Homo sapiens: one gene and its partners. The protein of the gene in region 1 purifies or fractionates together with the protein of each later gene. This does not show direct contact. Each region holds a gene or a part of one and is shown in the gene's direction. Other genes may lie near its edges. The genes, in order: USP9X, GJA1, WWP1 and LATS2.

Region 1 (7,034 bases):
CGTTGTGGACATGTACCCTAGAACTTAAAGTATAATTTAAAAAAAAAAGGCAAATGTAGTTTACATTAAGTCCATAACTAAAATGTTTACAAAACTAAGGGATAAATCCTTTTTTTAAATCGTTTTTAGGTACGAATGTGAAGAATCTTTTACGACCCTAAACGTAGACATTAGAAATCACCAAAATCTTCTTGATTCTTTGGAACAGTATGTCAAAGGAGATTTACTAGAAGGTGCAAATGCATATCATTGTGAAAAATGCAATAAAAAGGTACGGGCTGTCCAGTTTTGTTTAATTTTGATTACATTTAATGGATTTAGAAGAAATTGGTTTTTTTGGTTCATCCTCACAAGTCACCCTATTTTTATTTTCTCCTACTTTGGTATAGTGGTAGCAGAGAAGTAGTCAATATGATAACTAATAGAAGGTTTGGCAAGGAAGGAAAAAAAGTAGTGCCAAAGGGGCTAGGTAAATAAGATAAAAATAGGTAAATAAGAGTGAATAATTTTAAAAGTCATAACGTGATAGCACATTCTCTTATATAAGTTACACAGACACTTTCCATCTCTACCGAGAAACAAATTGCCATTGAACCCCTCAAAGATACAGAGCTGATAGAGGAAAACATTTCTCCTGTCATGTCCAGGATTACTTGTCAAGACCAAAACATTTGCTGAAACCATTAATTACTTTATTGAACCACATAAGATTTCTTTTAGACTAGTCAAGTGGCCCATAAGATTTCTTTTATCACCTATGTTATAAAACCATTTATTTTGGAAACTTATTAGCAGTTCTTTGAGAGAGATGATTCACACGCATTATAGTAATGAATAAGGTGTATCTTTGGGAGCTCCCAAACCCTTTCACCCTCAAGTCACTTGTGTTGTTTTGGCCTTATGCACCACTTAGAGAAGTCCTGAAGTTTAAAGATTGAGATTGTGGGCTGTAAAGCCATACTGCCTGCCACCTGCAGCTCCTGAGACCTGAGGCAAGTTACTTGACCTCTCTGTGATTACTAGTTTTCATCTTTTAAGGTTCAGTAGTACACACTTGAGAAGGTTGTAAGGATTCGGTATGTTTTTACTTGTGCGGCACTTAGTATATATTACCTGGCATCTGAATTACCCAACAAATATTAGCTACTCTTATTGTTATTGTAGTTCTTTGGTTTGTGCATAGGAAACCACCTTCGTGGGAACAACAGTAAACATCAAACAGGTAATAATGGCTAGATAACAATGACAGAAACCAGTCAACAATTTACCATTTGCATATTATTAATTTCAGCATTTAAATCAGCTGATAGGATTATCTTGATTATGCTCATTGTCATGTATTTGTTTATACTTAAAAATTCAGATAAGTCTTAATATCATTTAAAAGTTTGCTTGGGGTTTTTTTTTTTTTCCTGTGGATTTTAATAGAACATCTGGTAACTTTGTCTTGTTTATTTTAGGTTGATACCGTAAAGCGCTTGCTGATTAAAAAATTACCTCCTGTTCTTGCTATACAACTAAAGCGATTTGACTATGACTGGGAAAGAGAATGTGCAATCAAGTTCAATGATTATTTTGAATTTCCTCGAGAGCTGGACATGGAACCTTACACAGTTGCAGGTGTCGCAAAGCTGGAAGGGGATAATGTAAACCCAGAGAGTCAGTTGATACAACAGAGTGAGCAGTCTGAAAGTGAGACAGCAGGAAGCACAAAATACAGACTTGTGGGTGTGCTCGTACACAGTGGTCAAGCGAGTGGGGGGCATTATTATTCTTACATCATCCAAAGGAATGGTGGAGATGGTGAGAGAAATCGCTGGTATAAATTTGATGATGGTGATGTAACAGAATGTAAAATGGATGATGACGAAGAAATGAAAAACCAGTGTTTTGGTGGAGAGTACATGGGAGAAGTGTTTGATCACATGATGAAGCGTATGTCATACAGGCGCCAGAAAAGGTGGTGGAATGCTTATATACTTTTTTATGAACGAATGGACACAATAGACCAAGATGATGAGTTGATAAGATATATATCAGAGCTTGCTATCACCACCAGACCTCATCAGATTATTATGCCATCAGCCATTGAGAGAAGTGTACGGAAACAGAACGTACAATTCATGCATAACCGAATGCAGTACAGTATGGAGTATTTTCAGTTTATGAAAAAACTGCTTACATGTAATGGCGTTTACTTAAACCCTCCTCCCGGTGAGTATCAAGAGAGTTTAGCTTCTTAGTAATAAAGAATAATTTATAGTAGGCGTCAACATGTTTAAGTTCATAAAATTAATGTTTTCACTTTAAATGAGTCTAATTTGCTGGGTGTGGTGGTTCACGCCTGTAATCCCAGCACTTTGGGAGGCCGAGGTAGGTGGATCACCTGAGGTCAAGAGTTCAATACCAGCCTGACCAACATGGTGAAACCCCATCTCTACTAAAAATATAAAAATTAGCCAGGCATGGTGGCATGCACCTGTAGTCCCAGCTACTCCCTGTAGTCCCAGCTACTCCGGAGGCTGAGGCAGGAGAATCGCTTGAACCTGGGAGGTGGAGGTTGCAGTGACCCAAATTGATGGCCACTGCACTCCAGCCTGGGTGACAGTGAGTCTCCATCTCAAAAAAATAAAATAAAAAAATAAATGGGTCTAAATTAAAGTAGCCTGAGAAGGGTTCTTAACAAATTTAGGACTTCTCAAAATTAATGGAAACACAGACTTGTTTGAAAATGGGGTTGGAAAATAAAAATGTGTTTTTATATCTGCATTTTATTTATAGGGCAAGATCACCTGTTGCCTGAAGCAGAAGAAATCACTATGATCAGTATTCAACTTGCTGCTAGGTTCCTCTTTACTACAGGATTTCACACAAAGAAAGTAGTCCGTGGCTCTGCCAGTGATTGGTACATTGCTTTGGATTTTCATTCCTATTATACTAATGTTTGGTTTGCTTCTTTAATAGATTGCTTTATGTTTTTCTAAACCAAGAGAATTTTGTTTGAAGTTTGGAATATAGAATAAAAACTCTGGGTCACAATAGAGAAATCATATTAAAATAGTTACTTAGTCTAAACATGGCCTTTTGTTATTCAGAAGCTGACTTCTGCTTCTATTACCTTGTATCATATCTTTGACATCCCTGCACCAAAGACTACAAGCTGAGACTGGGGGACAGTGACTCACACCTGTAATGCCAGCACTTTGGGAAGCCAGGGTGGGAGGATTGCTTGAGCTCGGGAGTTCAGGACCAGCCTAGGCAACATAGTGAGACCCCCATCTCTTCAAAGAAGATTTTAAAAATTACCCAAGTATGGTGGCGCACACCTGTAATCCCAGCTACTCGGAAGGCTGAGGTGGGAGGATCGCTGGAGCCTGGGAGGTTGAAGCTGCAGTGAGCCATGACTGTGCCACTGCACTCCAGCCTGGGCAGCAGAGCAAGACCCTGTCTCAAACAAAACCAAAGATTACAAGATGAGACTGAAAAGTGTAAGCTACTTATGAAATTTATTAGGTTTTAGCTTACCTAGATTGAATTCTGACACCGATTAAAAGGGTAAAAAATTAAAATGGTTTTCTTAAGTTTCTAATTGTGAAAGTATAGAGGCCATTATGATACATTGATTTAATAATTTTTACTTACTCATTTCAGGAATATGTCAAGATAAGGGGGTGGTATTTTGTCATTGAATCTAGGAAGAGTTTGTTAATGGATTTTTAGAGGACAAGCTTTCACCTGTTTGGTAACTCTGAGAGAATAGACCAAGTCATAGTATTTATCTATTGTTTTAATATTAGAAGCAACCTTTGCTGGTTCTCTCCAGCAGTAGAGGAAGATCTTTGTCTTTTTTTTTTGGTTCAATGAGACTCATCCTTTTACTATAGAGAACAAGTTATTGACTTAATAGTCATAGGTTTTTTTGTTTTATTTTAGGTATGATGCATTGTGTATTCTCCTTCGTCACAGCAAGAATGTACGTTTTTGGTTTGCTCATAACGTCCTTTTTAATGTTTCAAATCGCTTCTCCGAATACCTTCTGGAGTGCCCTAGTGCAGAAGTGAGGGGTGCGTTTGCAAAACTTATAGTCTTTATTGCACATTTTTCCTTGCAAGATGGGCCATGTCCTTCACCTTTTGCCTCTCCTGGACCTTCTAGTCAGGTAATTGCACAGCTTTCTTTCTAAATGATGAGATGTTTACAAATAAATTGTGTTTCCTGGAAGTCGAAGTCACAAGCATATGTGCATCCACTTGATATGTTTACCTAACAGAAACACACAATATGATGTCAGTGAGTTCCATTTAATATTACTGCATGGCAATGAATAGTAATTATTGGCTCTTTAAAAATGTAAGAGAATTTTCTCTGTTCGGTTACATGCAGTAGCTTAATTATAAGTTTACTGTTAAGTAGATTTTTTCCTATTTTGAAGGTTTTTTAAATAGTCTTAGATTTTTTTAAAAAATTACAAGTGTAAAAAATTATAATGAAATCCGCCTCTGATCTTCATTCCCTTTCCCAAGAAGCAAAATAGTTTAGTTTGTGTGATCAGTCCTTCCATAAATGTATGCCTGTATCAGCATATGTGCATGTCCTTTTTATGCAAGTAGAAGTATACATATACCTTGTTGCTGTAAAACAGGTAATGTTTTATCCTTTACAGGCTTATGACAACTTAAGCTTGAGTGATCACTTACTAAGAGCAGTACTAAATCTCTTGAGAAGGGAAGTTTCAGAGCATGGGCGTCATTTACAGCAGTATTTCAACCTGTTTGTAATGTATGCCAATTTAGGTAAGAATTTAAGTTTTTCAGAATTCTGTTTTGATGTATCATATTAAATTGTGAAGTCATTTAGGTCAAGTGATGAAATATAATCTGATCTGAAGTAGAAACAATTTCCCATAAAACCTGTTGTGAATTTTATCTGAACATGGCACTTTCACCTTTTACTTTGTTTATGCATGTGTCTTTGTGGTAGACACAGGTCAGAATCTGTGTTTTGATTTTTTTTTTTTTTTAATCTCCTAATGCAGTGGTGCCAAATCTGGCTGCTTTTGGAAAATACTGGTTTCTAGGCCTCTTCTCACACTGATTGAATCAGCATCCCCAAAGCTAATGTCAGGGAATCCATGTTTTCAAAGGGGTCCCCAAATGGTTGTGATACTCACCAAATTTAGATAGCAGACTTGGTCTGTACATAAGTTTTTGTTTAAGTAAACTACAATTATGGATAATATAAATACTCGCTTAAAATATTAATTTAGGGGCCGGGCACAATGGCTTATGCCTGTACTCCCAGCACTTTGGGAGGCCAAGGCAAGAGGATTGCTTGAGCCCAGGAGACTAACCTAGGCACCATAGGGAGACCCTATCTCTACAAAATAAAATTTTAAAATTAGCTGGATGTAGTGGCATATGCCTGTAGTCCTAGCTACTTGGGAGGCTGAGGTGGGAGAATCACTTGAGCTAAGGAGGTTGAGGCTGCAGTGACCCGTGATTGCACCACTGCACTCCAGCCTGGGCAACAGAATGAGACCCTGTCTCCAAAAAGCAAACAAACCAAAAAGTCATATATCCAAAATGAAGTTCTATATCCAGGCGTACCTGTCGTTTCAGGTTTTTTTTCTGTGATCTTACTTAATCACCATTGGATCCATGGCCCTTTTAACATAAGGGAGATTGTACTTTTCATTTGTCTATTTAGTTTGTCTTCTTTTCCCTTGTCTTTTCCGTAATTGCAGATATTTGGGTATTTGTAGATGAGAAAGAGAATATTTATTACACAGACAAGCATAAGTGGAATCTGTATTTCAAACTTAAAAATGCCAAATTTAGACATTCAGAAGAATCCTATTCTGTTCAACTCTTTTAGATATTGCCTGTTCACAAAGCACACATCATTGTTCCATAATGTAACCTACTTGTAAAATTTTCCTGCTGAAAACAAATACTGTAGGGCCTGTAAACCTTAATATGAAGTCCTTAAGATCAGATATGCATTGGGATTGAGAATTGTTTGGATTTAAGAAAAGCAAGGCAGTGCATATACCAACATCTCTATAGCAGGGTCTGAGACAACAACTTACAATTGAACACATTAATATTTCTACAGTAAAATATGAATATTTATACTGAAGGGAGAAATAAAGACTATAAGTAGCCTTTAGTCAGTTTGGGCTAGGTTATCCCACCAACCACATTTTGACAGCAACTTAATGAAAAACTTTGTTGGGCTGGGCGAGGTGGCTCATGCCTGTAATCCCAGCACTTTGGGAGGCCGAGGCAGGCGGATCACCTGAGGTATGGAGTTCAAGACCAGCCTGGCAAACATGGCGAAACCCCATCTCTACTTAAAAATACAAAAATTAGCAGGGCGTGGTGGCGGGCATCTGTAGTCCCAGCTATTCGGGAGGCTGAGGCTTGAATCTGGGAGGCAGAGGTTGCAATGAGCCAAGATCGCGCCACTGCACTCCAGCCTGGGCAACAGGGCAAGACTCCGTCTCAAAAAAAAAAAAAAAACTTGTTATAATAATAGCTTTTGGGCCAGGCGCGGTGGCTCACGTCTGTAATCCCAGCACTTTGGGAGGCCGAGGCAGGCAGATCACAAGGTCAGGAGTTCAAGACCAGCCTGACCAACATGGTGAAACCCCGTCTCTACTAAATATACAAAAATTAGCCGGGCGTGGTGGCACATGCGTGTAATCCCAGCTACTCAGGAGGCTGAGGCAGAAGAATCGCTTGAACCCAGAAGGCGGAGGTTGCAGTGAGCTGAGATCACACCACTGCACTCCAGCCTGGGAGACAAAGCGAGACTCCATCTTAAAAAAAATTAAAAATTAAAATAGCTTTTGGAATCTTAGGATTTCAGATAAGAGGTTGTGGACCTGTTTTTATTATGTTTTTGGGAATATGGCAATAAATAAGATTGTCTAATGGGATATAGAAGCAAATAATGTAGTTGCCATAAAATATGTTAATAGCTATAATAGGGAAAATGCAAAGTGCATCACGGGGGGCATGGTACCTGAAGGG
Region 2 (7,743 bases), on another chromosome or scaffold:
ACCCCAGAAACTTATCTTTTGAAAAAGGGATACCAGCACAAGTGGTAATACGATGAGAAATCTTCACTGCTCTGAAAGATGTAATTGACCAACAGTCACATAAAGAACACATTTTCTGGCAAGTTTTACCAATTTGGGTAGAGCACTTCTAAACTTGCAAACTTATGACTTCCAAATTAACTTTTACTTCTTTCTTGCTGTCTGGTAAACGTTAGTTAAAATGGAAATTTGGTGCATAGAAAGGATTATTCTGATGCGAAGGAAAGGAAATCTGTAAGATAATGCCATCTTATCTCATTACAAAATCAACCTACACCCGCCTAGTCTCAGATAGTCTTTCTATTCTTCTACAAATGCCTTGAATTGCCCCAGAGGGATTGCAAATTTTCTGATTCTTCTTCACTTACTTTCATCTCAGCCAGCTGATAACCTTAGCTACTTTGAGAAAATACCTTCAAACCCTAGTTTCATGCGGCCTATACTGTCTGAAAACATTTTCTTTATGTTGCACTCATTCTCTTTTTAACGGAGTAGCTGTCCTTTCAAAGTTAACTACTCCTCCAGTGCACAAGTAATATTTTCCCACAAATAAGCCCACTTGTAGCTATTTTAAATACCTTTCCCTTTCCCAGATGTTACCTTGCCTCTTTTTTCATTCTTTTTGTCTGCATTAAATGAGGAAATCCACCAAGGCTGTGTGTGTGCTTTTTGGTACACTGCCTATATCCCATCTCTTAGTAATTTCATCTGTACCTGTGGCTTCTAATTACAAATCTTTTTTTTTTCTTTCTTTTTTTTTTCAGATCCTCTCACCTCAGCCTCCTGAGTAGTTGGGACTACAGAGGCCTGCCACTATGTCTAAATAACCTTTTTATTTGTTGTAGACACAGGGTCTCCCTATGTTGCCCAGGGTGGTCTTGAACTCTTGGGTTCAAGTTGTCATCCCACCTCAGCCTCCCAAGTGCTGGGATTACAGAGTTGAACCACTGTGTCTTCCCAATCACAAATCTTATAACAATTTTTTTTTTTTTTGAGACTGAGTCTCACTCTGTTGCCCAGTTGTAGTGCATTGGTGTTATCTTGGCTCACTGCAACCTCCACCTTTCAGGTTCAGGCAACTCTCGTGCCTCAGCCTCCCGGGAGGCTGGGACTACAGGTGTGTGCCACCACGCCCAGCTAATTTTTGTATTTTTAGTAGAGACGGGATTTCTCCATGTTGGTCAGGCTGGTCTCGAACACCTGACCTCAGGTGATCTGCCCGCCTTGGCCACCCAAAGTGCTGGGATTACAAGCATGAGCCACTGTGCCCCGCTGTAACAATTTTAAAGTGAACGCCACAGCTCCTGTTTTAAATTGTCAGTCATCGGTCTTTACCTAGATATTTCAGTTCTTCATACCAAAATATTTCAAACAAATCTTTGTATCTCTTTCAGCAGGTCAGTCCCTCCCCGAGCTTCCTTTTTTTGTGTTAGTAACATTTTCCCAATCAAAACTCCAAAAATCGGTTTCCACAGCCTCCTCTTCCTTGTCTTCCCATTCATCCATCATCAAGTTCTGGTAATTCTACCTTCCTTTCCTTTCTTTCTGCTAGTATTGCCTTTCAAGTTCCTATAGCTTACTGCTCTCCCATTACAATACTCTTCTTACAAGTCTAATCCGGAGCCACCAATTATTTAACGTTTATGCTACTCAATGAGGTGAAAGTAATCCATCAGAGTTTATGTGGGATAGGCATTTAAAGGCCTTAAAAATCACTCCATTCATTTCTTAAAATTTCAGAAATTCCTATTTTGAAACAAAGGTAAAAATCCAAAAAAGGAGGTGGTTCTCATATTAAGAAATATTTCTCACAATTCTGAAAAAAACTTACCCTCCATTGTGCCAACAATGTGCATTTTGCAAAATATATATAGCTACATGGAGAAAACAGAATCAAAGGCCTGGCAGGTCATTTGGCCTAAAGAAGCCCTGCAGAAGACAGAAACTGTAAATAACTGTTTCTAGTTCTCCAAAGAGCAGTGTTAATCAGGCTGCATCCATTTCTTCTACATAGACAAGGTCTGGCAATCAGAGAAGACACAGTTCTAGGAAGTCAGTGTTTATATTAAAGAAATGGCATTGACATTTCTGAGAATATGAGAAAAACACATTTAAAAAAAAAAAACTATTCCACAATTTTTGCAAAACATTCCAATGGAGACAAGCTTCTAAGGTCAGATAAGTGAGATACTTTTGAACAATTTTGCTATTGATAAAAATATAACTCACCAACACTGCTAGAGTATGAGTTATAATAGAAGTTGCTACCTGTCATTTAGAGACCCTGTTAGTTGTCCATGAGAGAAAACTGTGGGGCCTTTTGCAAAACCTAGTTTGTCTTGCACATGATTACTCATAGCATTGCATTTCAGTGCCATTATCCCAAAAGAAGAGAAGCTTCTTCAGAATGTCTTATCAATGATATTTTCATGAAATCATGTTGAGATCTTGTATCAATGATCATGGAAAAATGATTTTAGAAAGAAAAGACATAGTACGTTCATGTATTAAGAGAAGTAACTAATTACTGGCTCATGCTATGAGTAATTCCTTTGGCTCAGAAAATAGTTCAAGTGATATCCATGAATAATTTAACTTGTTATAAGGAAGTTCTTTAGCTCTATTTCCAATTGGTCACATAGGTAATAGATTAAAAAGAAAAGAATACTTTACAAGAATATTTAAACATCAACATTCATCTATAGACCTAACAAAACATAACAGAAATAAACACAATTTTTTTTGCTTTAAAAATCCTATTATAAAACAGTCAATGACAACTTTTCTTTCATGTAACTTATTCTGAATTAGCATCATGGTAATGTTTTTTATAATTGTAGTTGATAAATAATTTTACAAAAATAAATTGTTATGTAAATTAAATGAAGCATACTTTTTTGAAAAGAAGACATGTATTTTCTTACGATAAAAAGAATAAATCATTTTCATGAATATGTTCTAAGTCCAATGAAATAATTTTTAGTTAAGACAAAACAATAGATTTATTTAAAGAACAATATAAATACAAGACCAAAACAACATTTATAGGTTGCTGAACCTGAAGACTCGAAAGTCAGGTTACAATTTCTACTTCCAGAAGATTGTTTTTCCCCTTTCTTAATTTAAAGAAAAATGTACTCTTGGAAATAGGATAGCCAACAAGTAAAAGCAAAATTGTTCCTTAAAATTGCAACATTTGGGCCCAGCGCGGCGGCTCACGCCTGTGATCCCAGCACTTTGGGAGGCGGAGGCCTGTAATCCCAGCCACCCAGGAGGCTGAGGCAGGAGAATCACTTGAAGCCGGAAGGCGGAGGTTGCGGTGAGCAGAGATGGCGCCACTGCACTCTAGTTTGGGCAACAAGAGCGAAACTCCGTCTCAGAAAAGAAAAAAAAAAACCTGCAACATTTCAAAAGATGTTATATTAGTCATTTCAGTGAAAGTTTAATTAGGGAACGGTGTCTACCAGAATATATTTGGCATCCTTCTTTTTTCTGGTATTTGCCTGAGTGAGAAAAGTGTTAGGAATAGGAAGGCCAGATGAGTTTGCTTTCCCTCCAGAGAATACTGGCCAAGAAATTTCCTGTCCAACCTCAGGAGCATCACTGAAGCCTGTTTATGAGGAATTGTCCTACCACAACACTGTGTTATGGCATTTGGGAAGCCCTCAGAGGAGCTGCCTGCTCTAAGATTGAGGCCACATGACTCAGGCCATTATAAACCCTAATGCAGAGCCCTGAAGAGGGAGAGCATTTGGAAGGGGATAGGGAAGCACATAAAGATGATATGCTCAGCTTTACTGTCGTTGGGCAGAAAACTCTCTAGTGGGCTTGAGAGGGGGAACTGATTTTAAGGAGGGCTGAATAGTTTGGGAACCTACTTAATGCAACCATAGTCTGTATTTTTAAAATCCTCACATTTCACTACAGATTTGGGTTTTAGTGTCTTGGCATAAATAGGGCCTTAATATAAATTCTTAGTTTTCTGGAGACATGGTAGAGGTCAGATATCAAGATTTCATAGGCAAACAAAACATGCTATATATGTAAAAAATGTATATACACACACAGCCTTTTGCTAAACTGAAAGAAAGTAAAAATTCAAAGCAGTCAAGGGGTTGAAAGATGGATTGGGTATGGACTTTTCTTCATCTATGTCAATTTTTGAAATCTCTCTCCCATCTCCACCATTCCCTTTGTTAATTGTCCTTGCTTACATTTAAAGGAAGGGAATTAGATCATCAAACAGGTCACTCACACCTACCTCTAACTTCACACACCTTGGTCAATGTGAAACAAGCTTGAACTGGTTATATGCTTCCCCACCATTTTTATTTATTGTAAGCTACTTTAAAAATTTTAGACAATGTTGTAATAAAAATATACACCTTTTTCCCCCATTATCCCTGGTCTTCTGGTGAAGCAAGCAGTGTAATCAATGATTCTTATGTGTGAGGAGCAACTCCAAGTAGAGGCGTTCATGTCCCTAATGCTTTTTTATTTTTCCTCATCAGCAAATTTAAACTACAACTTTATCCTGATCCCACTGCTGCTCTTTGCCTCTTCTCCCCCCAGCCCTTCCACATTTACCAGCCTCCTCCCTACCTCCTCCCAGCCTTTCCCTTTGCCCTCCCCTTTCTTCTAGCCCCTCCTCCCAGTTGAGTCAGTGGCTTGAAACTTTTAAAAGCTCTGTGCTCCAAGTTACAAAAAAGCTTTTACGAGGTATCAGCACTTTTCTTTCATTAGGGGGAAGGCGTGAGGAAAGTACCAAACAGCAGCGGAGTTTTAAACTTTAAATAGACAGGTCTGAGTGCCTGAACTTGCCTTTTCATTTTACTTCATCCTCCAAGGAGTTCAATCACTTGGCGTGACTTCACTACTTTTAAGCAAAAGAGTAAGTTTTTAAAAAATGAGAACACGTTACCTATTAGTTTCTTTTTCTACAAGTAAAACTTTTCTAAAGTTTTAAAATGTGTTAAATGTAATTTTGAATTATGATACTGTAAATGGATTGATGGATTTGAAAGTGTTTCTATAGTTTTAAAGTTAAAATTTATTGTACCAAATATATATTTTGACTGTTAAAAAAGTTTCTATTAACATTGCAACAGGTGAAAAGGTTCAAACCTTTCCGATTAGAATAAAGGATTAGTTTACTGGATGTTTGGTTTTTCATTTTAGAGTATCATTTTATTTTGTTTTTTTTTTGTAATCAGTAATAGTCTAGGTGCTATCATTTGTTGGGTGGGGGGGGGGCGGTTAGGCGCCTGGGTTGGGGGATTTGACTGACTACATCGGAAAAATCAAAGTGCAAATTTGCTTAGCGTGCTTCCTATAGTATTCTACACTTCATAGAATAAAGTGCTTTTTTCATATGGAAATCTTGATTGATGTTCTATAGCTTTGCAAAGCCAACTTCTTTTGTGACGAAGTGCTTTGTTAAAACATCGTGGTTACTTGACTTCCACGTGGTTCCTTCCTAGAATTTTCCCCATTAAACAAAAAGGTATAAAATTCAAGAGTATTAATATTATGCTTTAAAAATCAACAGTAAATTGTTACTTTGTGTTAGCAACCGCTATGGAAAGATTTGAGACCCTCAGGAGAGACAGCTTTTACTCGACCACGTTGGCAGTTTAGGAGATGAAATCTCTTGAATGGGTGGTGGCTAGTTACAGAGCATTAGAGATCAGACGTTTAAAAAAGAGTGTATGCCAGGGTACTTTTCCAAAACCGTCTCCTAAAACGGGAGCTCCTAGAAAGAGCAGGAAAAAAACTTTCTTAAACAGCGCTTTGGGAGCTCCCCCCGCCAACACCCGCCGCCCCGCACCTTCCCTCTGCTCGAACCTGTAACAGAATTCAGAACTCTGGGGCAGTTCTTTGGAGTTGGAGCTCCTAGGGCAAAGATAACGCTAATGCGTTGTTTAAAAGGGTTCAATTTTTAAAATACTTTTATTGGTAACACCCATTCTGTTCATCAGAAATGCAGCCATGCATTTTTGTGCCCGGTAAAGATTTTCTGTTCTGTGTAAATCTACAAACTAAAATAATTAGTTTAGATTCTTGACGTGACCCTGCAGTGGAAGTATTTGCACCAGTGAATGCTGAAAAGCAAATAAAAATGAAAGCTTTGCGGAGGCCGTGGGCCGGACGGGCGCGGGGCGCCTCCTGCCATCTTAGCGTCTGCCGGGATCCTTCCCGCGCCTTCGCTGCCCGAACCAGCTCGGTCTTGGGACGTTTCCCCCAAATCCTCACAAGTCAAATCGAACTCAGGTCCGAGTTCGTCACTGCAAAGGAACCCGGGGTGCGGGGTGGGAGGGATAGGAGGAGAGATGGGCTGGGTGCCAAATGGTAGAACAAATGGTTGATTTAATTAAAGTTGTCAATCTAATTTCCCATCCCTCTCACACCAGCCCTTTTTTTTTTTCTTTTTCTTTTTTCCTCTTAAACTTGCTGAATCCCACTATCTCCGCGTTGGTAAGAAAACCTGAATACCTTGGGAATTGTGCTTAAATTGCACTTGCAACTCCCCTGGAAGTTCCTGAAACTTCCCGAGAATGAGGCGGGGCGGCTCAAGGGGAAAGGGCAGGGAGGAGAGACCCTCGGGAAGCTGATGACGCGTCCGGGGCAAGTCAGCCTGTTTCCGAGACGCGCGCCTCACGGTCGTAGCAGCGCTGCGCCCACCCTGCCCCTTTAGTGACCCAGCCAGCCTTTGCTGGGGGTTTCTGATAACGCTCATCGATAAGCTCTCCTTGCTCCCAAAAGGCGTGCTTCTCTTTCTCTCCAGGTACAAAGTAGGGGTGGGAAGGGGAGAGCTACACAATGTTGTAAAAAGAAGCGTGGCTTTATTTGGAAGACGGTTGAATTTCTTTTGCTTCCTCGACCCAGTTAGTAACGACAAGAAAGATACTGAATATCGCCCTCCGAAAATCGGGCGCATTTGAACTCGGTGAAAAGTGTCCCTGTGAGGAAGCCTAATGTTTACTTTTGTGCAAGGATAACTGGAAATTAAAGCGTCTAGTAATGCAGAGATTTCATTAAGCGAGCGCTCCCCTCCCCCCCGCGCCAGGAATGAAATAAGCCAGTTAGACAGAAAACACTTTTGGGAGAAGACTAATTACTTCTGGGTAGGCCGAATTGACTGGAAATTATACCAAGCAAAGGCAGTACATTCCATTCCGTCCTGGCGATGTTGATTCTATATTATTAGAACATTGTTCCCCCAGTGTGGGGGTGCTTTGTACTTCCCAAAGTCAGGGTAGACTGGTTACCTGGGAAAATGCAGTGTTAGTGCTTTGCTCCTACTTTCTTCACTGTTTAAACATGTTCCACATTTTTCTAATGCCTTCTGAGGGTTCTCAACCCAGCCACTGAGTTCCTCACCCTTGGCGACTGTGATACCAACAATGCTGTCACCCTCCTTGGGAAACATGGTTGCAAAGATGCTCCGCAGGAGGCAGATAAAAGGCTGTGCTTTCAGATACTGAAGGTTGCTTTGTTACTTAGATGTTTCCAATTCCTGCATAGAGAAGGAGGGAAAACACGGGGTGCATTCTTTCTTTTCTTTTCTCTACATCCAGGGGTGTAGCTTGGTTTGAGCCTTTATATATGATACCCGCAGGGAAGGGAATGATAGGACAGTCACCAGTGATTAATACCTTCCACTCCGCCTTTCCTGTTGTTCTGACTTATCTTCAGGATTCTCAG
Region 3 (7,034 bases), on another chromosome or scaffold:
TCAGTCTCCCGAATAGCTTGAACTACAGGCGCTTGCCACCACACCCGGCTAATTTTTGTATTTTTTTTTTAGAGATGGGGTCTCACTATTTTGCCCAGGCTCGTGTTGAACTCCTGAGCTCAAGTGATCAGCTTGCCTTGGCCTTCCTAAGTGCTGGGATTACAGCGTAAGCCACCCTGCCGGGCCTACTGGGAGCTTTTTAAAACAGTAGAACCTTCAGGTTCTTCTGTGTACTGATAAGAACTCTTACTGTAGAGATATGCTGTATATATACAGAAACACAATATTACATTTGTGTTGTGGTTTACAGTTTACAGAGAATTTTGACTAATGTTATTTGCTATTATATTACACAATAAACTATTCCTGGAGTTTAAATGATTTGCCTGAAGCATCATTCAGCTGGTGGGTAAAGTGGAATCAGGAGATTGTTGACAATGATGGTGTTCTTTCATGTATGAAGATAATGCAGTGGCTTTACCATCAATTAAATATAGTTACTGCCTTTAAATGACCTTGTCAGTAAGACTAGATGATCCCACAAGATTCCTTCTAGTTTTTAACATTTTGTGATTCTCGAGTCCTAGACTTTCATCAGAGTATCTACTCTCCTTGTTTAATATGTGCATGAGAGCTGGTGAGTCTGAGGGATGAATTGGGTAGAGAAGAGCAGTTAGCAATATCAGATCATTCATTTGGATTGTTACTTTCTTTGTATGTCTCACTTTGGGCTGGGGAGTAGGGAGGAGAGAGGTGATGTAAGTGAAATAAGAAACTTTAAGAACTTTATTGGGAGGCTGAGGCAGGAGGATGGTGTGAACCCGGGAGGCGGAGCTTGTAGTGAGCCGAGATTGCGCCACTACACTCCAGCCTGGGCAACAGAGCGAGACTCTGTCTCAAAAAAAAAGAACTTTATCTTCTCTGTTCATTTATACCTTCAGAATATTCTTTTCTTTCAGGAAGCCTTTATCAAATAAAAATGGAGACTTCACAATGTAAATGAAGATTCCTACTCAATTTTTTTTGGGTGGATTAAGTAGCTAGCTAGTACGGTTAAAGTGTAGTGCGATTGGTAAACAGTTGACTTTTCTGCACCTGTAAGATTATCTCCCTGGTAATAGGTAATCATAGCATGTTATTACATGTTAATAAACTTTGATTTCATAATTATTAGAAAGACTGTTGTTTTTTACTCTTTGTATAAAAATATGATACAATTATAATGAGCATTGGAAAATCCAATAAATTGCCCTTTATAGTGGTATCCAAGGAACTAGTTACTAATACTTAATGGAGGAAAAATGATAAAAACATACACAGATGAATTTTATTGTTTTTGCTGGCATTAAGAATTGTACTATACCTTATGTTAGTATAGCATTTCACATTTGTAAATAATAACTATATTTATCATTTGGTTCTCATGACAACTGATAAGTTGGTGTGTTAGGAAGTAATAACTGCTTTATATTTTATTTTATTTTATTTTATTTATTTATTTTTGAGACAGGGTCTTGCTCTGTTGCCCAGGCTGGAGTTCAGTGGCACAGTCATGGCTAAACTGAAGCCTAGACCTCAGCCTCCCAAGTACTTGGGACTACAGGTGTATGTCATGACACCCAGCTAAATTTTTAAAATTTTTTATAGAGATGGGGTCTTGCTGTGTTTCCTCAGGCTGGCCTCGAACTCCTGGACTCGTGGCCCTCCCACCATGGCCTTCCAAAGTGCTGGAATTACAGGCGTGAGCCATCGCTTCCAGCCAATCATTGCTTTTTGGATGAATATGCTGAGGCTAAAAAAAAAGTTTAAAAAGTTAAATTTCCAAAGTATGTGGCTAGTTAGTGGCCACAATTAGAACTACAACTAAAACCCTTATTTTTGTTCCTATGTCAGTATTCTTTTCCCACCAGACTTCTTACTCTTCATGTACAATGGAACATCATTAGTTAAGAGCTGTATGTGAAGGATTTGAATTTACCTGTTTGGAATGTGTTAAACTTTTGTACCGTGTAGAGGTAAACTTGTCAGTTTTTTCCTTTGTGTTAAAATGGTAATCTCACTGCAGTGGCTATTGGTAGGTGATATTTAAATTTGTAAGCATTGTACCACAGAATAGTTATTCTCCTGTCAAGGATAAAGCAAAAGTTGATTTCTTATCTGGAAAAGTACATTGGTGAAATGTAGATATTTATTTTTTTGAAAATTTTGAATTTAATTCTGTTGCTTTTACAGATGAAGTTTGTGTTTCCCTTTTATAAAAGCTTAGTCTTCAAAAATTTACATTTTTTGAGGATATAAATGAGGATCTAATTTCCAAAATATATATAGATTGGGTATCCCTAATTCAAAGTTTGAAATGCTCCAAAATGGGAAACTTTGAGCCACCTACATTACTCAACAGAAACATTCACTGGAGTATTTCAGATTTTGGATATTTGGATTAGGGATACTCAACCTGTATCATGATATTTTATTATTTTTGTATTAGATCATAAGCTCTACCATTGAAAAAAACCCAAAGATATTAAAAAGCCCTCCTTAGTGGATGCTTCAATTCATACATTTAAACAACTTTTTTAGGGAATGTATAATGTAAAACCATACGTCAGATGGTTTTTAAGTTATAAGGAAGACTAGCATGGTTTTTAAGTTATAAGGAAGAGTAGCATTTGTTGATTTAGTCTTGACATTTCTTTTTTCTTTTTTTTTTTGAGACGGAGTTTCCCTCTTGCTGCCCAGGCTGGAGTGCAATGGCGCAATCTTGGCTCACTGCAGCTTCCGCCTCCTGGGTTCAAGAGATTCTCCTGCCTCAGCCTCCCAAGTAGTTGGGATTGCAGGCATGCACCACCACACCTGGCTAATTTTGTATTTTTAGTAGAGACGGGGTTTCTCCATGTTGGTCAGGCTGGTCTTGAACTCCAGACCACAGGTGATCTGCCCGCCTCAGCCTCCCAAAGTATTGGGATTACAGGCATGAGCCACCACGCCTGGCCGTCTTGACATTTCTTAAATCTACAGTTCACTCACAGCACATACTGGCGTACCTACTATGTGCCAGACATATTTCTAGGTGCTGGGAGTACAGTGTTGAGATGACAGATATGAAGCCTTTCCTCTTGGAACCTGGAGTTTAGTGGAATCACTAACATTAACAAGGGCATAGAACTTTATCTTCTCAGGTTGTAATTTTGCGGAGTGTAATTAATTATACCTCTCCTTTTTCTGGGGTTTGAACAAATTATGCAGAACACACAAGGAACCAGGTGAGTGTTGTTTCAGTTATGTACTGCTGTGTAGCAAACAGCCCTAAACCAAGTGACTTAAAACAACCATTTTCTTTGTTACAGTTTTGCTTTCCTGGGTTGGGCTCAGTTGGGCAGGTTTTGCTGGTGATCACTCTAATGGCTGCTTTTCTCTCCAAGTAGCCTTTCCAGCAGAGTTGCTGGCCTTACCTGGTAGCTGATGGCTTAGGGCTCACAAGAGTACAAAACAGAAGCAACCAGATCTTTTTTTTTGAGAGGGAGTCTCACTCTGTCACCCAGGCTGGAGTGCAGTGGCTCAGTCTTGGCTCACTGCAACCTCCACCTCCCAGGTTCAAGCAATTCTCCTGCCTCAGCTTCCCGAGTAGCTGGGATTACAGGCGTGCACCACCATGCCCAGCTAATTTTTGTATTAGTAGAGATGGGGTTTCACCATGTTGGACAGGCTAGTCTGGAACTCCTGAGCTCAGGTGATCTGTCCGCCTCGGCCTCCCAGAGTGCTGGGATTACAGGCGTGAGCCACCGTGCCTGGTCTGCAACCAGATCTTCTTAAGGTTTAGACTTGTAAGGGATACAGTATCATTTCTGCCTTATTATACTGGTTAAAGCAAGTCACAAATCTAGCCCAGGTTCAAGGGTACAAATGTGTGAATCCATTTGGGGCCACCCATGTAACAGATTACCATAAATTTTATTTAAGTATAACATCAGCTTTACTATACCAAAACAGGACTTACGGAAAACTGTTTTGGAAGCTGAAGCTTAGGCAGCTTACTACTTTCCGCAAATCTGGATTTTGAGTCTGAGCATGCCACAGGGAAAGCTGAGTCTAAAAAGTGCAAATGACAGCACATCTGGCTTACTACGCAAATGGGAATACCTAGCACTCTCCTTGGTTAGAAAAGAGGAGAACATTTGTGGCCTCTGAGGTTTTTCCTAGTGTGCCACCATAATAGGGTAGGATTGACTTGCCTTCTGCTTGAGGGCAGTGGGATCTAACAAAGTACAGGACCCAAGAGTCCATGCTGCTTGGAAGTAGTGATTTACCCGATCTCGTGAATTGGAACAGACAGCATCCCATGCAGAAAATGGGCCACAGATGGGCAGAGATCGATTCCCTCTGCCCTTGTGATTGGATTTGAGACCTAGGGGAGAAGGGTTTCTTGACTATCACTCTGGCCTTGACCAGAGTGAGCAACCTGTCCCCCACGCGCTCCAAGCCCCAATGGCATTTTCTGTTTGCAGTGTCTTGAAAAAGCTTGGGATAAGCTACTCTTCCTTGGAGAGGTGTCATTATAGTGGAGAGAATTCTCTTTCCTTCTAGAGACTGGAATGGTAATCCTCTCTTATGGAAATACAATGAATAAGGTGCTGCTTCTCCTTTCCAAGAACAGGTAGATTCATTGATTGCTATCTGGGTTTTTCTCGCATTATCACTTAACCTTATCCACTATCGCTTTATTTTAGTCTTAGCAGTATTTTTTGTTTGTTTGTTTTTAGTTCAAGTTGGCTGCTAAGTAATGCCATGGTTAAAGGTGAAATGAAGAAAATGAGTGTTTAGTTTTTATTACATTATAGCTTCTGAGTGGAGTAGTGAATGCATTTCATTTTAAGAATTTAGGTTATTAGTGCATAGCTGCGAAGCATTTTTGAAGCATTTCATGTACACTAAAAAACGGGCCCCTGCATCCTAATGCAAATCTCTTTGCAAATTTCTGAAAATAGTACATTGGCTGTTGCGGGGAGGAGTTTGGTAATTGGATGTACTGAGAAACATGATTTATAGAAATAGGAAAGGCCAGGGCACAAAGAAGGGCACGGATAGAGTTACATGAAGGTGCTTCTTGATGGCTGTCCTCCCTACCCTAAATTATTTGGGTAGTTAAAAAATATCCTAGCATTAACAGAATGTAGGTATGATAGCCTTTTAGGAAACAAGGAAAACAAGTTCTTTTGATAGCTGTTCAGTATACTCATAAATCTGATTGACTGGGCTGGGTGGAAGCTGACTGTTGAGTCCTGACTTGAAATTAGGATACTGTGGTTACACATTAGCCCCAACTTGCCAAGATGTCCTACTTTTTGTCTGTGTTTAGTTAGACTGGGGAGGAGAATTAGTTAAATGAACCTGTTTTGTATAAAGTAGGATATTCTTTACCTTAGAAGTAAACAAACTAGATTGTTCTTCTCTTTTTAAGTTTTTAACGGTAGAGGCACTTTTGGCATACAGGTTAAGAGTCACAGTTTAAAGTCAGGCAGACCTGACTTCTGGTAGTATTGCTTAATGGCAGGATTGCCTCAGTTTCTTCTTTTGTAAAATGTAAAGAATACCATCCTTAATGGATTTTTGTAAGGATTAATTGAAATAATGTTTATAAAGCAGAAAGCATGGTGGCTAGAACGTAAGCCCTTAAATCATGTTTATTGCTCGTAATTCAGTATTATGAAGTTGAAAATTCAAACAAGTATTCACTTTGCTGTGAGCTACTCATTTCTCAAAGACAGTTCTAGCTTCGTTTTGGCATGGGCAGAGCTCCTTATCAAATTTCCACCCCCAGCTTTTTTTTGAGACAGGGTCTCCGACAGCTCTGTCTCCCAGGCTAGAGAGCAATAGTGTGATCATGGTTCATAGCAGGCTTGACCTCGGGGGCTCAAGCAATCCTCCCACCTCAGCCCCACAAGTAGCTGGGACTACAGTTACGCACTAACATGCTCAGCTAGTTTTTTTTTTTTTTTAGTAGAGATGTTGCCCAGGCTGGTCTTGAATTCCTGGGCTCAAGTGATCCCCCCTACCTCGACCTCCCATAGTGCTGGGATTTACAGGCATGAGCCACCAGGCCTGGCCAAATAAACAAAAAAAAAGTTGCTAAAAGGGTAAGCACGAAATCTGGGATACTGACTTAACATGGCTGGCAATATATCAGCTAGTGATGGTTTTGCTGTGCAGCCTGGGAACAAGAAATCATTAACACCATCATTAGATGAAATATTGTATTGACCAGTGTTTGTCAAAGCGCAATCCTTATATAACAGTCGTCTGGGATGCTTATTAAACATGTTGATTCTTGAGTATCCTTTGAGATCTCTGATATGGTCCTTGAGAGTGGAGCTTAGGGATCTTCATTTTTTGCAAATATCTCAAGAGATTTTATGCACATTAGTTTGAGAACTGTTGGTAGAAACTGAATTGGTTATTTGGGGTCCTAGTGTGCTCTGTCAGAGTTCATTTTTCTAGCTAGCTAGCTAAAATATTCCTTTTTTTTTTTTTTTTTTGAGAAAAGGTCTTGTTCTGTCACCCAAGGCTAGAGTGCAGTGGCAAGATCATGGCTCACTGCAACCTTAACCAACCTCCTGGGCTCAAACGATCCTCCCACCTTAGCCTCCCTAGTAGTTGGGAGTACAGGTGTGTGCCGCGACACCTAGCTAATTTTTTATTTTTATTTATTTATTTATTTATTTTAAGACAGAGTCTTACTGTCACCCAGGTTGGAGTGCAGTGGCGCTATCTCGGCTCACTGCAACCTCTCCCTCCCAGTTTCAAATGATTCTTGTGCCTCATCCTACCGAGTAGCTGGGATTACAGGTGCATGCCACCAGGCCCAGCCAATTTTTGTATTTTTAGTAGAGACGGGATTTTACCATGTTGGCCAGGCTGGTCTCGAACTCCTGGCCTCAAGTGATTCACCCGTCTTGGCCTCCCAAAGTTCTGGGATGGATTATAGCCATGAGCCACCGTGCCCTGCCTAATTTTTTATTTTTCTTAGAGATGGGGGT
Region 4 (7,034 bases), on another chromosome or scaffold:
CGGTGTGGGGACAGGCTGAAGACCCTAGAGCAGAGGGCGCGGAAGCAGCACCAGAGGTGCCTGGCACATTCACTGGTGGGGACTCCAAACTACATCGCACCCGAGGTGCTCCTCCGCAAAGGTACATGCGCCATGGCCAGCCACCCCGCAGGAGGTCTCCTTCCCTTCAGACGTGAGCTGAGTCTCGCTGGCTCTAGCTTTCCAAGGACCTAATGCTTCCAGTCATATTTTTGTCCTCATAGAAGCCTGAAAGCTACTAATTTCTGCAACATACAAGCCTCCCTCCTGTCCTGGAAGTGCTCTTGCTTCAGGGGGTTGGAAGACATGCACCATTAGACCAGTGTCTGCTGGCCCTCGGGCTCTACCTAGACCCAAGGGAATGACTCCAGCCCTGATTTTCACAGTCAGATGATGGAAACCACTCTGAGGGCCACAGGACCTCTGCTCAGTCTGCCCAGACCACACATTTCCGGGCTCTAGCTTTAACTTCTGTCTCAGGCTCCTGGCTGAGTTGTGCCGTGTGCAGCTGGGTGCTTATGTGACAGCGTTGGAAGATCCTTTTTCTCTCATTCTCCCTGCTAGACCATAAGCAAAAGTGGCAGGTGCCAGTTGTGTAAAATGACTAGTGCTCATAACATTTGCCTCCTGGATGGATGCTTCATTCTGTCAAATGCAACATCTGGTTCAGTATAGGAGGAATCCTTCAGTGATCCTGCATGGTCCACAGTGACAATGGGGTGTAATTAATCCAGAGACAGGCAGCCCCTGCCATCACATGTTGTTTAAAGTCCTTTGGAGCCAGCCAGACTCAGTTCAAGTCTGGGTTTTCTTTGCTAGCTGTGGTAATCCAGCACAAGTTACTTAACTACTCAGACCACAGACATAGCAATAACGACCTTGAGAGGTTGTGAATAACCTTGGTGCCCAGTGAAGGTCTACTTCCCTCTACCACGTGCAGCATTCTCAAGAAACCATTGCTTGGGGTTTTTCTGCAGCCTCTGTTGCCAAACTTGGACAGGAAGAGGTGGGACGGAGAGATAGCAGAGGGGCCTGAGGGGGCTACCCTGGCATATGCAGCTGCAGGCACCCGCAGACTGACCTCTTAACATCCCAGTTTATACTTAGCAAGGATTAGGTGACATGAAGACGATCCTGGCTTGATGGGTCATGAGGCTCTGAAGGAAAAGTGGGAGAAAATAAGAGGTAAACGAGCCTAGCCTACAGCCTCCCAGAGGCCAGCCCTGACCCAGCACAGCTGGGAGCCCCGTGAGGAAGGCCCGGCTCCGTAGGGGCCTCACACAAGGAGTGTTTGGCTTACAGTGAATTGTCCGGTGGGTTTTGCCCACCTCCTCCTCATCTCCGTATTCTTCAGCTTCATCCAAAACTGACTTAGAAGCCTCCCTTGACCCTCACCTGACTATTCACAGGTTATAGCACTTTATGTTTTTCAGTTCTGTTATTTTAATTGGTGCCTCTGTTTGTGATCTTTAAGAACATAAAATTCTGGCTAGTAACTATTTGCTAACAATAAAAATAATCTTTTTAAATTAAAAAGTATTTTCTTATTACAATGATTAAAAATACAAAAACCTAAGCGGCCATGGCCACCGCCCCCCACCACCCCACCCAGTAGTATCCAGGTACTTACATAGGTCCATCTTGCGCACAGTGCGATGCTTCAACGCGCTTTCCCACTTAACAGGAAATCTGTATGTTCAGCATCTTAATGAAATTCACCTCGGAGGAGAATTCATGCCTGTGTAGGGATTGAGTGAACTTTGTCTTGCAGGGTACACTCAACTCTGTGACTGGTGGAGTGTTGGAGTGATTCTCTTCGAGATGCTGGTGGGGCAGCCGCCCTTTTTGGCACCTACTCCCACAGAAACCCAGCTGAAGGTAATGTGAGAGGAACCACGCATCTGCTTGCTGTAGACATCTGATTTGCTCATGTACCCATGAATCTTTGGTCAGCATTTGCCCTCTTATTCTGAGTAGGGTAGGAATGGCAGTTGTATAGGATGGGATTTTTAAAAATAATCTCATTATTTTTTAAATTATCTATTTTTAAATTTTCTATTTTGATAAGCAAAGCCATGGAATTGGACCCATTTTAATATCTGAAATTCTATTAAACCCTTGGCCATCTGCCACCTTGCTATTTCCAGGCAAGAACAGTGAGGATCAGCAAAGGTGTGCTGCTGATCCACTGTCTCCCCCACCCACACCTGCCCTGCAGAGAACACACGGAACTCCAGGAACTATAGTTCACCCCTCAGCAATGAGGGGTTTGGGGTGCCAAACCCCCTGCACAGTCAAAAATCTGCATAACTTTCAACTCCCCAAAAACTTTACTAATAGCCTGTTGACTGGAAGCCTTACCAGTAACATAGCGTCAATGAACACATATTTTGTATTTTATATGTATTAGATCCTGTATTCTTACAATAAAGCAAGCTAGAGAACAGAAAATGCTGGCCAGGCGCAGTGGCTCATGCCTGTAATCCCACTACTTTGGGAGGATCATAGGCTGGGCGCAGTGGCTCATGCCTATAATCCCACCACTTTGGAAGGCCAAGGTGGGCAGATTACCTGAGGTCAGGAGTTCAAGACCAGCCTGGGCAACATGGCGAAACCCGTCTCTACTGAAAATACAAAATATTAGTCCATCATGGTGGTGTGCACCTGTAATCCCAGCTACTCAGGAGGCTGAGGCAGGAGAACCACTTGAACCCAGGAAGCAGAGGATGCAGTGAGCCGAGATCACACCACTGCAGTCCAGCCTGGGTGACAGAGTGAGACTCTGTCTAAAGAAAAAAAATCATAAAGAAGAGAAAATAGGTTTACTATTTTAATAATTGAAAGTGGATCATCATAAAGGTCTCCATCTTTGTCATCTTCATGTGGAGTGGGCTGAGGAAGGGGAGGCATTGGCCTTGCTGTCTCAGGGATGGCAAAGGTGGAAGAAAATGCTAGTGTAAGTGACCCTCAAACTGTGTTGTTCAAGGGTCAACTGTATCTAAAGAAAGCAGTTTCTTTATTTGGATATTATATCATTGTTCGCAAACTGTCAGCTATGTGGTCAGGCTAGTTGTGCATATTCCTAATATTCATTCAAAGTAGTTAAATAATTGTCAGTCATTTAATACTAAATTATTAGTTTTAAAATGACAGCCATTTGCTTTCTGAAATGAGTTACTAAGGGTTGAACTGAGAATTGAAATTAAGAATCTGCAGTCTTCTGTGGACATACCAACTGACACACAGTCCTTGGAATTTTCACATGCCCTGGTGGTCATGTGAGCCACCAGGGCATGTGGTTATTAGGCCAGGGAGCCTAAATTAATAACTTTAATTAGAAAATCTGTCTAGTAAGGTTGGGCGTGGTGGATCATGCCTGTCATCCCAGCACTTTGGGAGGCGGAGGCGGGCAGATTACGAGGTCAGGAGATCGAGACTAGCCTGGCCAACGTAGTGAAACCCCGTCTCTACTGAAAATACAAAAAATTAGCCTGGCATGGGGGCGGGCGCCTGTAGTCTCAGCTACTTGGGAGGCTGAGGCAGGAGAATCGCTTGAACCCAGGAGGCAGAGGTTGCAGTGAGCCGAGATCACGCCACTGCACTCCAACCTGGATGACAGAGCGAGACTCTGTTTCAAAAAAAGAAAAAAGAGAAATCGAAAAACCCTAAAGTAAGGCTTAGTTTCACTCTAGGAACAGTAAAATTGGAATCTGGCATTATCTGCGCCCTAATTGAATGGCTGAGCTACTCACTAAATTGCCCACATGATAATTCAGATTTTTTTATTCTGGTAAAATATACATAACATAAAATTTACCATCTAATTATTTTAATGGTAAATTAAAATTTACCATCTAATTATTTTAATGGTAAATTAAAATTTACCATCTAATTATTTTAATGGTAAATTAAAATTTACCATCTTAATTATTTTAATTACCATTTATTTAATAATTATTTTAATTATTTACCATTTTTAATTATTTTAGTGTATAATTCAGTGACATTAAGTACATTCACAATATTGTGCAACCATCACCACCCTCTATTTTCAAATGTGTTAATCGTCCCAAACCCATTAAACAGAAACTCCCCACTCTCCTTTTCAGCACCTGCTCGCCTCTCTTCTGCTTCCTGTCTCTGTGAGTTTGGTTATGCTTAGGACTTTTTTTTTTTTTTTTTTGAGACAGGGTTTTGCTCTGTATCCCAGGCTGCAGTGCAGTGGCACAATCTTGGCTCATTGCAACCTCTGCCTTCCGGGTTCTCATGCCTCAGCCTCCCAAGCAGCTGGGATTACAGGTGCCTGCCACAACACCAGCTAATTTTTGTATTTTTAGTAGAGATGTGGCTTCATCATGTTGGTCAGGCTGGTTTCAAACTCCTGACCTCAAGTTATCCACCCACCTCAGCCTCCCAAAATGTTGGGATTATAGGTGTGAGCCACTGTGCCTGGCCTCGGGACTTCTTGTAAGTGGAGTCATGCAGTATCTGTCTTTTTGTGTCTAGTTTATTTCACTTAGCGTAATGTCCTCAGGGTTCATCCATTGTTGTAGCTTCCTTTTTAAGGTGGAATAATAATTCCACTGTATGAGTCCCTGCTTCCGGTTCTTTTGGATATAAACCAGAAAGTGGGTTTATATCCCACTGGATTATATGGTCGTTCTGTGTTTAACTTTTTGAGGAACTCCCAAACTGTTTGCCATAGTGGCTGCACCATTTTACATTCCCACCAACAGTGACTGAGTGTTCAGTTTCCCTACATCCTCAATAAGTATTTTCCTGTTTTTGTTTTTTTTAAGTAGTAGCCACCCTAGGGGATGTAAGGTGGTATCTCATTGTGGTTTTGAGTTGTATTTCCCTAGTGTTTAATTATATTGAGCTTATTTTCATGTCCTTATTGGTCATTTGTATATCTTTGGAAATATCTCCTCAAGTCCATTACCCTTTTTAAATCAACTTATTTGGTTTTGTTATTGTTGTTGAGTTGTAGGAGTTCTGTATTTTCTCTGGGTACTAACCCCTTTTCAAATACATGTTTTGAAATCTGTTCTCCCATTTTGTTGCCTTTTTGCTATCAGTAATGTCCTTCGATGCACAAAAGTTTTAAATTTTTATGCAGTCCAATTTATTTTTTCTTTTATTCCCTGTGCTTTTGGTGGCATGTCTAAGAAATCATTGCCAAACTCAGGTTCATGAAGATTTCACCCTATGTTTTCTTCTAGGAGCTCTACAGTTTTAGCTCTATGAAAACAACTACTTAGGTTCAAACCAAGCCTACCACCCACACACCCACTAACTTCCATGCCTTATCCGCTGTCCCATCACCCCAGCTGGTAGCCAGTCATGTTGGCCTTGTTTCCTCCTGATTCTAAGTGTAAACAATAAAGAAGTCCCCTAGGTTTTGTCTTCACAGTAGACACATCTCTACAACAAGTGCATTTACTGAACGTCCAGATGGCTGGTTTGTGCAGTTGAGCATGTAAGGTCACATGGGGTCAGTCAGCTTTATTCTTCCCTATGAAGTTTTTCCTGTTTGTTTTTCAAAACCCCAGTTGGCCGTTTTTTGACCGCAATAAGTATTTGAATGAGCGTCATGATGGTTTGCAGAAAGCCATTGCCATAGCTAAAGAAATAACTTTAGCTGATCACCTGAGGTCAGGAGTTCAGGACTAGCCTGGCCAACGTGGTGAAACCCTGTCTCTACTAAAAATACAAAAATCAGCCGGGTGTGGTGGCAGGCGCCTGTAATCCCAGCTACTCGGGAGGCTGAGGCAGGAGAATCGCTTGAACCCAGGAGGCGGAGGTTGCAGTGAGCCAAGATCGCACCACTGCACTCCAACCTGGGCAACACAGCGAGACTCCATCTCAAAAAAATAAAAAGAAAGAAAGAACTTGTAGACCATCATTCTCTTCATTTTTGTGGAAAGCACAAAATTCTTTGGCTAAACAGTATTTCTGATAGAAGAAAATCAGTATCTTTTTGTCTGTATTTGACTGGTCATCCTGGCCTCAGGCTGTGAGCCATCGACTGAAATGACACTGACTTTTTGTGGCTGCTGAGATCAACAACTGCTGCTTGTGTCTATTCTAACTCCTCTCCTATTGTGAAACTAAACATATTTGAAAGTCACGTCATCACACGCTGTCCCAGAACTGCCCAAGATGTGAGGAGAAACTAACCTGTTGGCTCTGTTGTTTCCTCAGGTGATCAACTGGGAGAACACGCTCCACATTCCAGCCCAGGTGAAGCTGAGCCCTGAGGCCAGGGACCTCATCACCAAGCTGTGCTGCTCCGCAGACCACCGCCTGGGGCGGAATGGGGCCGATGACCTGAAGGCCCACCCCTTCTTCAGCGCCATTGACTTCTCCAGTGACATCCGGAAGCAGCCAGCCCCCTACGTTCCCACCATCAGCCACCCCATGGACACCTCGAATTTCGACCCCGTAGATGAAGAAAGCCCTTGGAACGATGCCAGCGAAGGTAGCACCAAGGCCTGGGACACACTCACCTCGCCCAATAACAAGCATCCTGAGCACGCATTTTACGAATTCACCTTCCGAAGGTTCTTTGATGACAATGGCTACCCCTTTCGATGCCCAAAGCCTTCAGGAGCAGAAGCTTCACAGGCTGAGAGCTCAGATTTAGAAAGCTCTGATCTGGTGGATCAGACTGAAGGCTGCCAGCCTGTGTACGTGTAGATGGGGGCCAGGCACCCCCACCACTCGCTGCCTCCCAGGTCAGGGTCCCGGAGCCGGTGCCCTCACAGGCCAATAGGGAAGCCGAGGGCTGTTTTGTTTTAAATTAGTCCGTCGATTACTTCACTTGAAATTCTGCTCTTCACCAAGAAAACCCAAACAGGACACTTTTGAAAACAGGACTCAGCATCGCTTTCAATAGGCTTTTCAGGACCTTCACTGCATTAAAACAATATTTTTGAAAATTTAGTACAGTTTAGAAAGAGCACTTATTTTGTTTATATCCATTTTTTCTTACTAAATTATAGGGATTAACTTTG

What was found.
Region 2: the proteins of USP9X (region 1) and GJA1 purify together in Homo sapiens (affinity purification with western blotting; 2 studies listed by BioGRID, with this or other methods). This does not show direct contact.
Region 3: the proteins of USP9X (region 1) and WWP1 purify together in Homo sapiens (affinity purification with western blotting; 2 studies listed by BioGRID and IntAct, with this or other methods). This does not show direct contact.
Region 4: the proteins of USP9X (region 1) and LATS2 purify together in Homo sapiens (affinity purification with mass spectrometry; 4 studies listed by BioGRID and IntAct, with this or other methods). This does not show direct contact.

Annotation. Positions count from the first base shown.
Region 1 is NC_000023.11:41,214,439-41,221,472, forward strand, and holds part of USP9X (ubiquitin carboxyl-terminal hydrolase 9X), read left to right. Parts: intron 1-129; coding exon 130-271; intron 272-1,460; coding exon 1,461-2,214; intron 2,215-2,781; coding exon 2,782-2,905; intron 2,906-3,933; coding exon 3,934-4,159; intron 4,160-4,663; coding exon 4,664-4,793; intron 4,794-7,034.
Region 2 is NC_000006.12:121,430,903-121,438,645, forward strand, and holds the start of GJA1 (gap junction alpha-1 protein), read left to right. Parts: upstream 1-4,743; 5' UTR 4,744-4,930; intron 4,931-7,743. UniProt on the Homo sapiens protein: Gap junction protein that acts as a regulator of bladder capacity. A gap junction consists of a cluster of closely packed pairs of transmembrane channels, the connexons, through which materials of low MW diffuse from one cell to a neighboring cell.
Region 3 is NC_000008.11:86,345,525-86,352,558, forward strand, and holds part of WWP1 (NEDD4-like E3 ubiquitin-protein ligase WWP1), read left to right. Parts: intron 1-7,034. UniProt on the Homo sapiens protein: E3 ubiquitin-protein ligase which accepts ubiquitin from an E2 ubiquitin-conjugating enzyme in the form of a thioester and then directly transfers the ubiquitin to targeted substrates.
Region 4 is NC_000013.11:20,974,553-20,981,586, reverse strand, and holds part of LATS2 (serine/threonine-protein kinase LATS2), read left to right. Parts: coding exon 1-121; intron 122-1,789; coding exon 1,790-1,896; intron 1,897-6,222; coding exon 6,223-6,717; 3' UTR 6,718-7,034. UniProt on the Homo sapiens protein: Negative regulator of YAP1 in the Hippo signaling pathway that plays a pivotal role in organ size control and tumor suppression by restricting proliferation and promoting apoptosis.